Linked DNA regions of Homo sapiens: region 2 is linked to region 1. The links come from fine-mapping of genetic effects on gene expression. A gene starts in region 1. The other region holds a variant in brackets. All regions are shown on one strand. Distances are from middle to middle.

Evidence for each region. PIP is the estimated chance that this variant, and not a neighbour inherited with it, causes the effect.
Region 2: its variant is fine-mapped to the expression of ANO2 in lung (TOPMed, PIP above 0.99).

What each region holds. Positions count from the first base shown.
Region 1 is chr12:5,942,938-5,948,166 of GRCh38, reverse strand. It overlaps ANO2 (anoctamin 2), which reads left to right and starts at 2,908. Exons shown (of 25, transcript NM_001364791.2): 1 at 2,908-2,971. The coding sequence starts at 2,950.
Region 2 is chr12:5,921,804-5,927,032 of GRCh38, reverse strand. It overlaps ANO2 (anoctamin 2), which reads left to right. Exons shown (of 25, transcript NM_001364791.2): 2 at 4,229-4,413. Among named protein-coding and RNA genes, the nearest start is that of ANO2, 21 kb to the left of the region's middle. The variant C/T (reference allele first, on the strand shown) is at 2,799.

The sequences.
Region 1 (5,229 bases):
TAACTGTAAATTGCTCTGTAATCATGTAAGAAGTGGCGAGAATAACAATGGGGAGATCAAGGCTTTCGGTAGGGAATAAGAGACTCTAATGTTAACAGCAGAGCATTAGAGATTTCCTTTGTGGTGAGGGCTGGACCGGCTGGGTTTCTATCAGGCTTTATGCTTGATGCCAAGGTCCTACATACTCCAGACATCCTTCAGTGGAAGAGGAAGTGGTGTAGATAACACCAAACATCATCCAGTCCCCAAATCACTAACTGGTACTGTCACTTGCAGTTAGAGATGGTCCTTCCTTAAAATGTATGGAAGAATTTTCATGTACATGCTGGCAAGATGGTGGGGACTCTTGCTGGGGAGAATACCCATGAGAAAGAAGGGGATGTCCTGGATTACAAGAATTTGATGAAGAATTGATTTTCATTCCAAATACTTTTGACACAGGAGAGACTCAGCTCATTGAAAGTACTGGATAATGGAATCAAAAGGGACTTAGACATCATCTAGTCCACTGTCCCTCCTCCACTCCTTTACAAGTGATGAAAGCAGCTCAGAGAATTCAAGTGACTTGCCAAAGGTCATAACTGCTGGGTGGCAGGGCCAGGTTCAGAACCCAGGTGACTTGACACCTGCATAAGAACTCCCAGGCCACCCCATCAGAGCCACACCATCCCTGTTGCTTACACTCCTCCCGTGCTGACATGGGGACCAGTGACTGCTGCACCCTTAAGTTCCCACCACTTCTGTTACTGCCTGAGCTTAACCTTAAGAGAAGCCACATTACAGGAAAATGGCATAGATTATGCTGAGTAGGCTTGGTGGGGAGTTTAGTGGGGCAGAAGGAAGGAAGAATGGATAGAAGTTTTATGTAACTACTCAGTAATTCAAAGGTTACTGTCTCTCCATCCATCACCCCACTCCCAACTTTGGGTAGCCTCTAAGGTCTCTCTTGGTAGGAAACCAGATCCAGGGACAGGGAATTAACTGTCACTCTTCTGACTGATCGCCTAACACTCTAGCTGGGGACAAGGTGTTATTGGAGGCATCAGCTCTGGAGAAATTCAGCAGGAAGGCTAGGCTACCACTGCAGCATAGGTGGTTGATTTTCCAACTGCCTGTGTCTTGCTAGCTTGAACTTCTCATGTTTACTGATATGTCATTTTACCGTCAAGAAAAAAGCTGAATCGGAAAACTGCATGTTTTGATTATTTTAAAAAAACCCAAAACGATGGAAGAGAGCTGGGTAAAAAGGATGCAAGAAGAGAAACTTGTGGGGCTAGTGTGTGCGGAGCGGTGTCTCGGCAGTCTTCTTTTATTTACAGGTATTCCAAAGGCACTATCTGTACCTGGTTTCAGGGACCCTCTTTTTTACTCACCCTCAGACCAGGCAAGACAGAGTGCCCCAAAGTGGATGTTTTAAGGGGAGTCTCAAGGAAGGAGTATATAGACACTAAGAAACTGCTGGAGGGAAAGAAGAAAGGGAATGAATGAAAGAGCAATGGTGACCATTTTTCAATCGTTTGGGGATTGAAAAGACATGATAACGGTCCCTGGAAGTAGACAGGGAGAAAGGGGTTGTTAGGGACAGAAAGGAGCAGAATAGCAGAGTGTTATGCCACAGACTCCAGGGCAGGCTGCCTGCTTTGGAATCCTAGGATCCTCTTAGAGGCAAGTTACTTGCCATTTAACACTGCAGTTCTCTCATCTGTAAAATGGGCACACTGCAGTGATTGCCTCATATACTTATTGTTAGGATTAAAATAACTACCATAGGGAAAGCACTGAGAAGGGTGTTGGGTGGAGAGGAAGTCCTGTAGAAGCATTAGCTGGTAGTACTTGCAGTGGATGGAATAAAGGCCTGGGTTGGGACATCACATCTTGTGGTTTTCCTTCTGCTCTGCCCTCGACTGTGGTGTCACTTACTCCCCTTTGCTTCCCCAGGCTCCTTCTCTATAAAGTGGGATCTATCATGACCAGCCTACCTTATCAATATAGGAGAGAAAATCTTCATGCCTGAAGGTCAGTGATCACAAATGGCATACTTGACCTTAACATAGTACTTCTTCATTTTGGGGGTCCATGGTATTAATGAACTTGTTTTACTTCTGTGCATCTTGGAGTTGCAGATTCCATCGTGCAGAAGGGCCCTTTGGAGGTCTTCCCTCCCATCCCCCTGCCCAGGTCCGTGAACTGTCCCGGGGAGATGGCACTCCTCTTCCCCTCTGGGGATGGAGCTTCCATCATCTACTCCCTCAACCTTCCTTAACCCTCCTAGCGTCTCATGGGAGAGCTCTTGTAAAATGGACCCCTCCTCCTGCCTCTGGCAGCCCCTCCTGTTTTGCGGTCCCTTGTGCACTTACTACCTGCCTCTTCTCCCTTTTGTTCTGCTTAACCTAGGGGAAGGTGAGGACAGCTGGTCTCCACCTAGTATGGAGACAGGTGTGGGAGATCCGCCGTCCAGGGGCTCGCCCCCACTCCCGCCCCAGGGCTAACTCTTGGGCAGTGGATGACCCTTTGGGGCGGCGGGAAGAAGGTTTTGCTGGCAGGATTGGAAACTAATCAGCCAGACAGTTCATGAGATAATCCGACTGAATTTTTACACTCGAAGCAGGTTGTGGGGCGTTGCCCCGGCTCTGGGGGAGCAGGGAGCGTTTACTGTCTCGCCCCTCAGCCCCACGGACCCGAGTGTGTCCTGGACTCAACCCGGCCGCGGGACCGCGCTCCATTCTCGACGCCCCGCTCCCAGCACCCGGGCGCCCAGGGCGCAGCGGGGAGAGCTGGGCTGTGGCTGCGCGGCGCCGGCGGCCGGGAGGGATGGGGGAGGAGGAGGCGGCAGCCGGCGAGGGGCGGGCGCGCCGGGACGGAGCTGAGCCGCGATGGAATTAGCCCCGCGGCGGCATAAGCCTGCCCAGAAGCGCGCGGCCGCGGGCCGGCGGGGTCTGCGTCCACATCATGGCGACTCCCGGGCCGCGCGGTGAGTTTTCCGGCTGGACCTGGTCCTGGTCTCCTACAGGTGGTAGGAGGGAGGGAGTGAAGGAGGCGGCATCCGAACTCCCACCCTTCGGGATTGGGGACCCCCAAGGGAGCCTGGGCAGGGTGGTGCGGGAAGTTGACCCCGTTTTTCCAGGGTAGGGACTCTGAGGGACGTCTATGTAATTTCCGAGACGTTTTTTGTTTTTTGTTTTGTTTTGTTTTTTTTTTAACTCAAGGAGAGGGAAGGTAGGACAACAGAGGTTTGGGCGGCCGCTTCTCTGTGATTGGTTACCAATCCCCACCTCTGTGATGTTGCCTCTCCTTGTTACAAGTCCTGGGGACGTTTAGCCTACAGCATCTGAAGGTAAGTAAACAATAAGTAAACAACCAGCCGGACTGGGTTTAACTCAGCAACGGTCCGCTGAGGACAGAGCAAATTTGACTTTGGCATCCCTGGAGTGGCCTCTCAGTTTCAGAAGTTTTTTCCAGTGTCTTACCCAAAACCGCATTCAGGAAGGGTTCCAAGATCAGGCATTTACACCCCAGGCTGCAGGGAAACACAGCTATACCTTCCCGAGGGACTTTTCTTAGAAGAAAAGCAAATTGAGGTGGAGTATGGAGAAGAAAGACGTTATTTTATTGCTTTTGGGCAGGACTGACTTTGCCTGGGACAGGGACTTTGTCGGCTGTTGTGTTTCTGGTAATTCTTGAGACAGGCATGAAGAGGGAGGTGCCCGCTCCTTTGGCATGAACAATGAGCTGAGTGCACTGGGAGGTGGTGTCAGTCACAGTCCTGATACTTTGTGAGCAGATGTGGAGAAATACCACCCCGGGACCATGTGGAACCTCGTCTGGGACAGAAGGTCCCACTGAGCAAGGTCGGGTCTCAGCCCAAAGGCAGGTGGCAGGTGGAGGGAGGATCTTAGACAAGGTGAAGGTGCTTCCAGAGGACTGTGGTCCTCTTGGCCCTCCACCTGCCGAGCCTTTGTCCTTGGAACCTGGCATCAGAGCCCCTGCCCAGTCTCTCTGTCACCCTGGCTCAGCTGCTGGGCATCCAGGGCTCATTTGCTCCTCTCAGTGTGTCTTAACGTGCACCCGTCATTTCCGGAGCCAAGCACCTGATTCGATCCTTTCCAGCAACTGCTTCTGCTGTCTGAGTTGCCTCTATGTGGGTACCAGAGCCACTCTGCTGGTTGACTGTAGAGACTGTGTGAGGGGTAAGGGTGGGATCCAAACACACACCTCAAGTTCTAGTCCAGTTTCCAGGTGTGCCATCTCTTCATCTTCCATTGTGGGGCAAGGCTGCAGGGTGAGAGGCATTTGGGCCTACTGGGGAGTGTGTCTATAATTTTCTGTAACAAAGACCTAATTTTCTGGAAAGCTACCCATTCTGTGGGCTGAGAGAAGCCCATCCCACCCTATGTATGACGTTGCTAGAGCACATGCATAGCAGGTATTTGGCTGCTAGGGACGGTGTTATTGTCTCTAGTACACGGTATAATCCATCTGTATTGTTTAAAAATTGTTTTAAAAATGTCAGTAGTTTTTAGGGTACGGGGTTTTGCTTTTGGTTACATGGGTAAGTTCTTTGGTGGTGAATTCTGAGATTTTAGTGCCTCCTCACCCGAGCAGTGTACATTGTACCCAGTATGTAATCTTTTATCCCTTATCCCTCCTCCCACCCTTACCCGCTGAGTCCCCAAAGTCCATGATATCATTCTTATGTCTTTGCATCCTCATAGCATAACTCCCACTTATGAATGAGAACATATGATATTTAGTTACCCATTCCTGAGTTACTTCACTTACAATAATGGCCTCTAGCTCCATCCAATTTGCTGCAAAAGACTTATTTTGTTTCTTTTCATGGCCGAGTAGTATTACACACACACACACACACACACACACACACACACACAAACACACACTCAAACACAGACATCCCACATTTTCTTTATTCACTTTTTAGTTAATGGGCATTTAAGTTGGTTCCCTATCTTTGCAATTGTGAATTGAGCTGCTATAAACATACATGTGCATGTGTCTTTTTTATATAATGACTTCATTTTCTTTAGGTAGATGCCCAGTAGTGGGATTGCTGGATCTAATGGTGTTCTACTTTTAGTTCTTTAAAGACTCTCCATACTGTTTTTCTATAGTGGTTGTACTAGTTTACATTCTCAGCAGCAGTGTTAAAGTGTTCCCTTTTCATCACATCCATGCCGACATCTAGTAAAATTTTTGACTTCTTAGTTATAG
Region 2 (5,229 bases), 21 kb after region 1:
CGTCCTGAAGTAGGGTTTGATAATTATCCTGTGCATTTTTCATAGCTCATGTACTTCCAAGGAATGTTAATCTTTTCTCTTACTGTATCATCACACTCACTTTATGAGGAAAAGATATAATAATGACACCTTCTCCCAAATCACCGAAGTAAAAACTAAGCTCAGAGAAAGGGTTTGTCTTGGGGCAGGGTGCTGGTGGTGAGGCCTTCCTCCGGCAACATCACATGGGTCCTCGTGGCCTGCACCTCCTCCCAATCCTGCACAACCCAACTTGTGGAACCTTACTCATGTCTAGGTTGGAAGGAAATTAGCTTTCTTAGTAGTATCTGAATATTCCAGTCTTACACCTTGATTAGCAGCTTTTTGAAGCAAGAATGGATTGCTTTGGATTTTCTGGGTCCCTAAGGACCAAAATAGTAGGTGGCCCACAACTAGATGAAGAGTGTGTAGGGAAGCATGGTCCAGGCAGCGGGAAGAATGCATGTAGGATGCTGGGCTGGGGAGCTGGTGTGCTAGAGCAGAGGTGTATGGCGGGACCCCAGGGAGCCAGCAGGAGAGAGGGGGTGGAGACTGGCGGGGCAGAATGCAGAGTCCCAGCCCGAGAGCCATGGGAGCCCCATAAGTTTGTGCTCTTGAGGGTGTCCTGGCCAGATGGATGTTTGTAAGGACCCCTGGCTGCCTTGTGGGGAACAGGGACAGGGAGCAGGGAGATCTGTTAGGAGGGCATCGCCGTCCTCCAGGGGAAGGAGGCTGACAGCTGGCACTAGGGTGGGACTCATGGAAGGGTGAAGAACAGAGGGGTTTGGCAGACATTTCAGGGGTAAAGTTTATAGGATCGGTACCAAATTGGACATGGGGCATGAGGAAGAACAGCTATCAAGGCTGCTTCTAGATTTCCAGCTCGTTGACTGTTTGGTGGAGCATTTGCAGGAGCAGGAAATGCTGAAAAAGAATCCTGTTTTGGAGAAGATCGTATGTTTGGATTTGGGCATGTTGACTTTGAGGGGCTGGGAAACATCCAAGTGTAGATGCTGAGCAGGCAGGGGAATGTGTGGACCTGGTGCCTGCAGGAGAGCAAGAGTTAGAGTGAAACTTAAGTGTCGTCAGCAATAGGTGACAATGAAGGTCTCTGGAGTGGATGAGAGTGCCCAGGGAGAGAGCTGGAACGTGGAGAAAGGCCCAGGCCCCAGCCTTACGACATCCATCTCCTCAACCCAGACGTGGGTAAGCCATGCCCCCACCCTCACGGCATTGCAGTTATGAACACCCAAGGATCTGTTGTTCAAGGCAGCGTGGAAGGAGAGCCAAGGCAACGGTGAAGGAAGGAAAGATTCTTTCCAAATGGGTGACATGTTCCACGGGCTGTGTACGATGGCCTTTCCTTCTAATTGACCTCATTCACCTCTTCTAAGCTTCTTAGGGAGTTCTCAAGGTGTGTGCTCACCTGCCTCACCCTTCCCCTTCCTGAGGGCAGGCGTCACTCGCGTTCCCCTTGGCCTTCCTCTCACGTCTGAAGGTGGCTCCCTTGTGTCTTTATTGCCTGGAGTGCCTCTCCAGAGCTGGGACGGCTGGGATGGCTGAACCGTGTGCTGTGCTCTAATCACTTGTGGGGAGAGGGAGAGAAGGGAAGCAGAGTTCCCAGGCAGCCGGATCCGTGTGTCAGAGAGCGAGCCGGGGGAGCAACTGCGATGGCTAGTGAGGGCCCTGAATGTCAGCCTCAAACTCCAGGTGGCACCTTTAGGGGATGGTGGTTCCTGGACAGCAGCTGGACCAAAGCTTTGCATTGCCCTTGAATCTGAGCTACTCTGAGCCACAGGTGCAAATCTGAATGTAGCTGCCAGGGTAGGGTGGCCCTTGAGTGAACATCATCTTTATCATGTTCCCCAGTGATGTATCCAGTGGTCTTGGGCTTTTTAGACATGCATCTAGAGGTTTCCAGGTCTTCTCTGGGGTAGAGTCCTTCTGTTCCAAGTTCTGTTCTCAGGCACTTGTGGGGCAGGCATGCAGGAAGGCACAAGGGAAGTGGGAGGAGGCGAGATTGGGCACAAGGGAGGAAGCCCCTTTTTTAGAGCCCTGAGCCTGAGCCCCATCACATGTAAACCAAAAAATATCTGAGACAGGCCTCAATCAATTCCGTTTATTTTGCCAACGTTAAGAATGTGGTTGGAAGAGAGGTCTGTGTCTTTCTCCAAAGATCATTTTGAGGGCTTCAATATTTAACGGGGAAAAGCAGGCTGTGGGGGAAAGAGGGAGGCTGTGGGAATCTGCATGTTGCAAGAGAAAAGGAGCAGTTAGGGAATTATCAATGATGTATTCATCTTGCGCTTTGGACAAGGTGAATATAGAGTAGCTGCCTGTGGAGCTATCTAGCCTTTTATCTGTAGCTGTCTGCTTAGGAACAAAAGGAAAGGCAGCGTCTTGCCTGACTCAGCTTTCGGCTTAATATTTTCCTTTCGGCAGAGTGATATGGGGTCCTGAGTTTTCATTTTCCTCCCACAAGGTGTGCCCACGCCTGCCCTTCTGTGCTGTCTCCCTAGGGAGTGCCTCCCGTGCCTCCTGGCCTTTCAGAAGCTACCCACCCTCCAGGACCCAGCTCTGGCTCAGTTACCCCAGAAGCCGACTTTGACTTAGTCTTTCTGGTCTCCCACAGTGTGGACTAGAACCCACAGTATAGAAAGGAATGATGAAAGCTTTCCTCTGCTGGTCACAGTTGTGTTTCCTGCATGTCAGCTCTGTCTTCATAAAGAGATTATGTTTCTCAAGTGCAGGGACCGAATGTTCTAGGACCCCTGAAACTG[C/T]GCTGGAGGGCTGAGCACCTAAGGGGCTGCTCCACAAGTTGGCAAAGGGCCGGGAGTTCTGTTTCAACAGACTGGAAGAGTTGCTTTTGTTCATTCATTCACTGAGCAGGTGCTTAGGGCTGAGTTGGAGACATAAGGTGTTACTTCTGCTCACTTGGAGGTTAAAATGCAAACACTAACGATTCTAATCACAGCCTTTGATCACATGCCGTCAGGCTAATCACTGCTCTGGGTGCTTTGCAGGCATTATCTTATTCTCATTCTCACTGCAATCCTGCAAGTTTGAGATTCTCATTTTACAGCTAGAGAACAAGCACAAAGAGGTCTTAGAGCTGGCAAGTGGCAGAGCTGAGGTTTAAGCCTGGGCACTGGCTGTGTTGCTTTTCTAGGAAGTGTTTCTCAGAGGAGAGAATAGATTGAGTCTGACCTGCGCTGAGACCTTGGCAACTCGCGGTTCCAGTGGGGTCTGTACAAAGTGCAGCTGGACTATCTACTCTCTCAGTTCCCTCCAATTCTAGCATGCAGTCATTCCATCACCTACTGGGGACTTTTCCCTTCAGGGGAGACACTGGAATTTTTCTGAAGTGGTCCTGCATTCCTGCCGAGAAGGGGCTGCAGACCTCTGGGGCCTGGGTAGAGGCAGCAGGTGCGTGAGGACCCTGAAAGGACACTGGAGGACAGTCCTTTGTTCAGTTGTTCAGAGGACCCCCTTGGTCTGTCCTTGCTCTCTCCCCGAGGGAGGTGGGGGCTGGCCAGGGTGCCAGCTGGTGCTGCTGCCACGGGAGAGGCCCAAAGCCTAAGCCTTTGGTATTAATTCAAGGTGTCTCTCCAGGCAGTGCCCCCCCACCACCCTGACTTGCTCAATGCCACCCCTTTCTTATCTGGGAATTATGAGAGATTATGACAGCCATGATCCGAAGGAGCTCCTGCTGGTGGCTCCACGCTGTGTGTGTGCGTGTGTGTGTGTGTGTGTGTGTATGTGTGTGTATGCGTGTGTGTATGTGTGCATGTGTGTGTGTATGTGGGTGTGTGTGCGTGCGTGTGTGTGTATGTGTGTGTGCGTGTGTGTGTATGCGTGTGTGTATGTGTGCATGTGTGTGTATGTGGGTGTGTGTGCGTGCATGTGTGTGTATGTGTGTGCGTGTGTGTGTGTATGTGTGCATGTGTGTGTGTATGTGGGTGTGTGTGCGTGCATGTGTGTGTATGTGTGTGTGCGTGTGTGTATGCAGTCGGGGGGCCGCACTTCCTTTTCCATGCTCCCTTCCTTGTGGTCAGTGTGAACCTGGGCTTTAGGGACTAACCAAGGAGGCAGCTGTGAAGCAAAATGGGCCATTTTCTCAGGGCTAGTGTCTGAGTACACTCAGTACCTCAGTGTCTTGGATTTCCTTCACCTGAGGCTGTTTTGCCTCCCTTGTCTTTCCCTCTCACAGATATACCCCTGCTCCCTGGCTCCCCACGCCGGCTGAGCCCTCAGGCAGGGTCCAGAGGGGGCCAGGGCCCCAAACATGGACAGCAGTGTCTCAAGATGCCAGGTCCCCGGGCCCCAGGTCTGCAGGGCGGTTCCAACAGAGATCCTGGCCAGCCCTGCGGTGGAGAGAGCACCCGCAGCAGCTCTGTGAGTACTGGGCGGGGGTGGGGTGGGGGGATAGGCCAGCCCTGTTGCAGGCCACCAAGGAGCCTCTGGTCTGGGGGATCCTCCAGTTGGGAGCACATGTGTGCGTGAAAGAGAGAGACCTAGGTTTGGGTAGGGCCTTTTCTCTTCTCTGTCTCCAAGTCAGGCACACTTTCCCAGTGCCCTGTTCTGGTCAGAGGAGGGTCAGGAAAGGAGGAGGCGTGGGAGGCCAGTCGATGCTGCCAGTTGGTCTGCAGGCCCCCTGGTTCCCCTCCTGCAAGCCTGAGCAACTGTCTTCTCTGCTATGGTGGCTCTGAGTCTCTCCCTTGTGCCTGGAGCTTCATCTGGTTGCCCAGGTGACCTCTCAGGTGGCTGCAGAGGCAGCTGGGTTTCAAACCAGTAATAAACAGGGAAACACCCACGGGGAGAGGCCGGTCCCTCCCCTGCTTCATCGTGTTCTCTCTCCTCCTCTTCTTTCCACCTCCCCACCTCTGGAGTGGAAGACAGCAGAAGTCAGTTCCCTGCTGCTGTCTTTGAAAGGGCCCTCACCAGTGGCTGGAGAGGAGGATGTGGGGCTGTGAATAGTGCCTGGTGAATTCCCGTGGGTGGGAGGGTAGGGGTCGGGTCTGGTGACTAGAAATTGGTCTTTGTTCCAATGGATCCAGAGAACCTGCCTGTGAGTATTCTGTGTTTAAATATATAGTGTATCTGCAGGCAGAGGTGCAGATCTGCAAGGAGGTGAGCGTGTGTGGGCCATGGTGCCTGTGGAAGGGGGTGTGTGTGTTAGAGCGCACTCGGGTAGATACGCGTGTACACAGG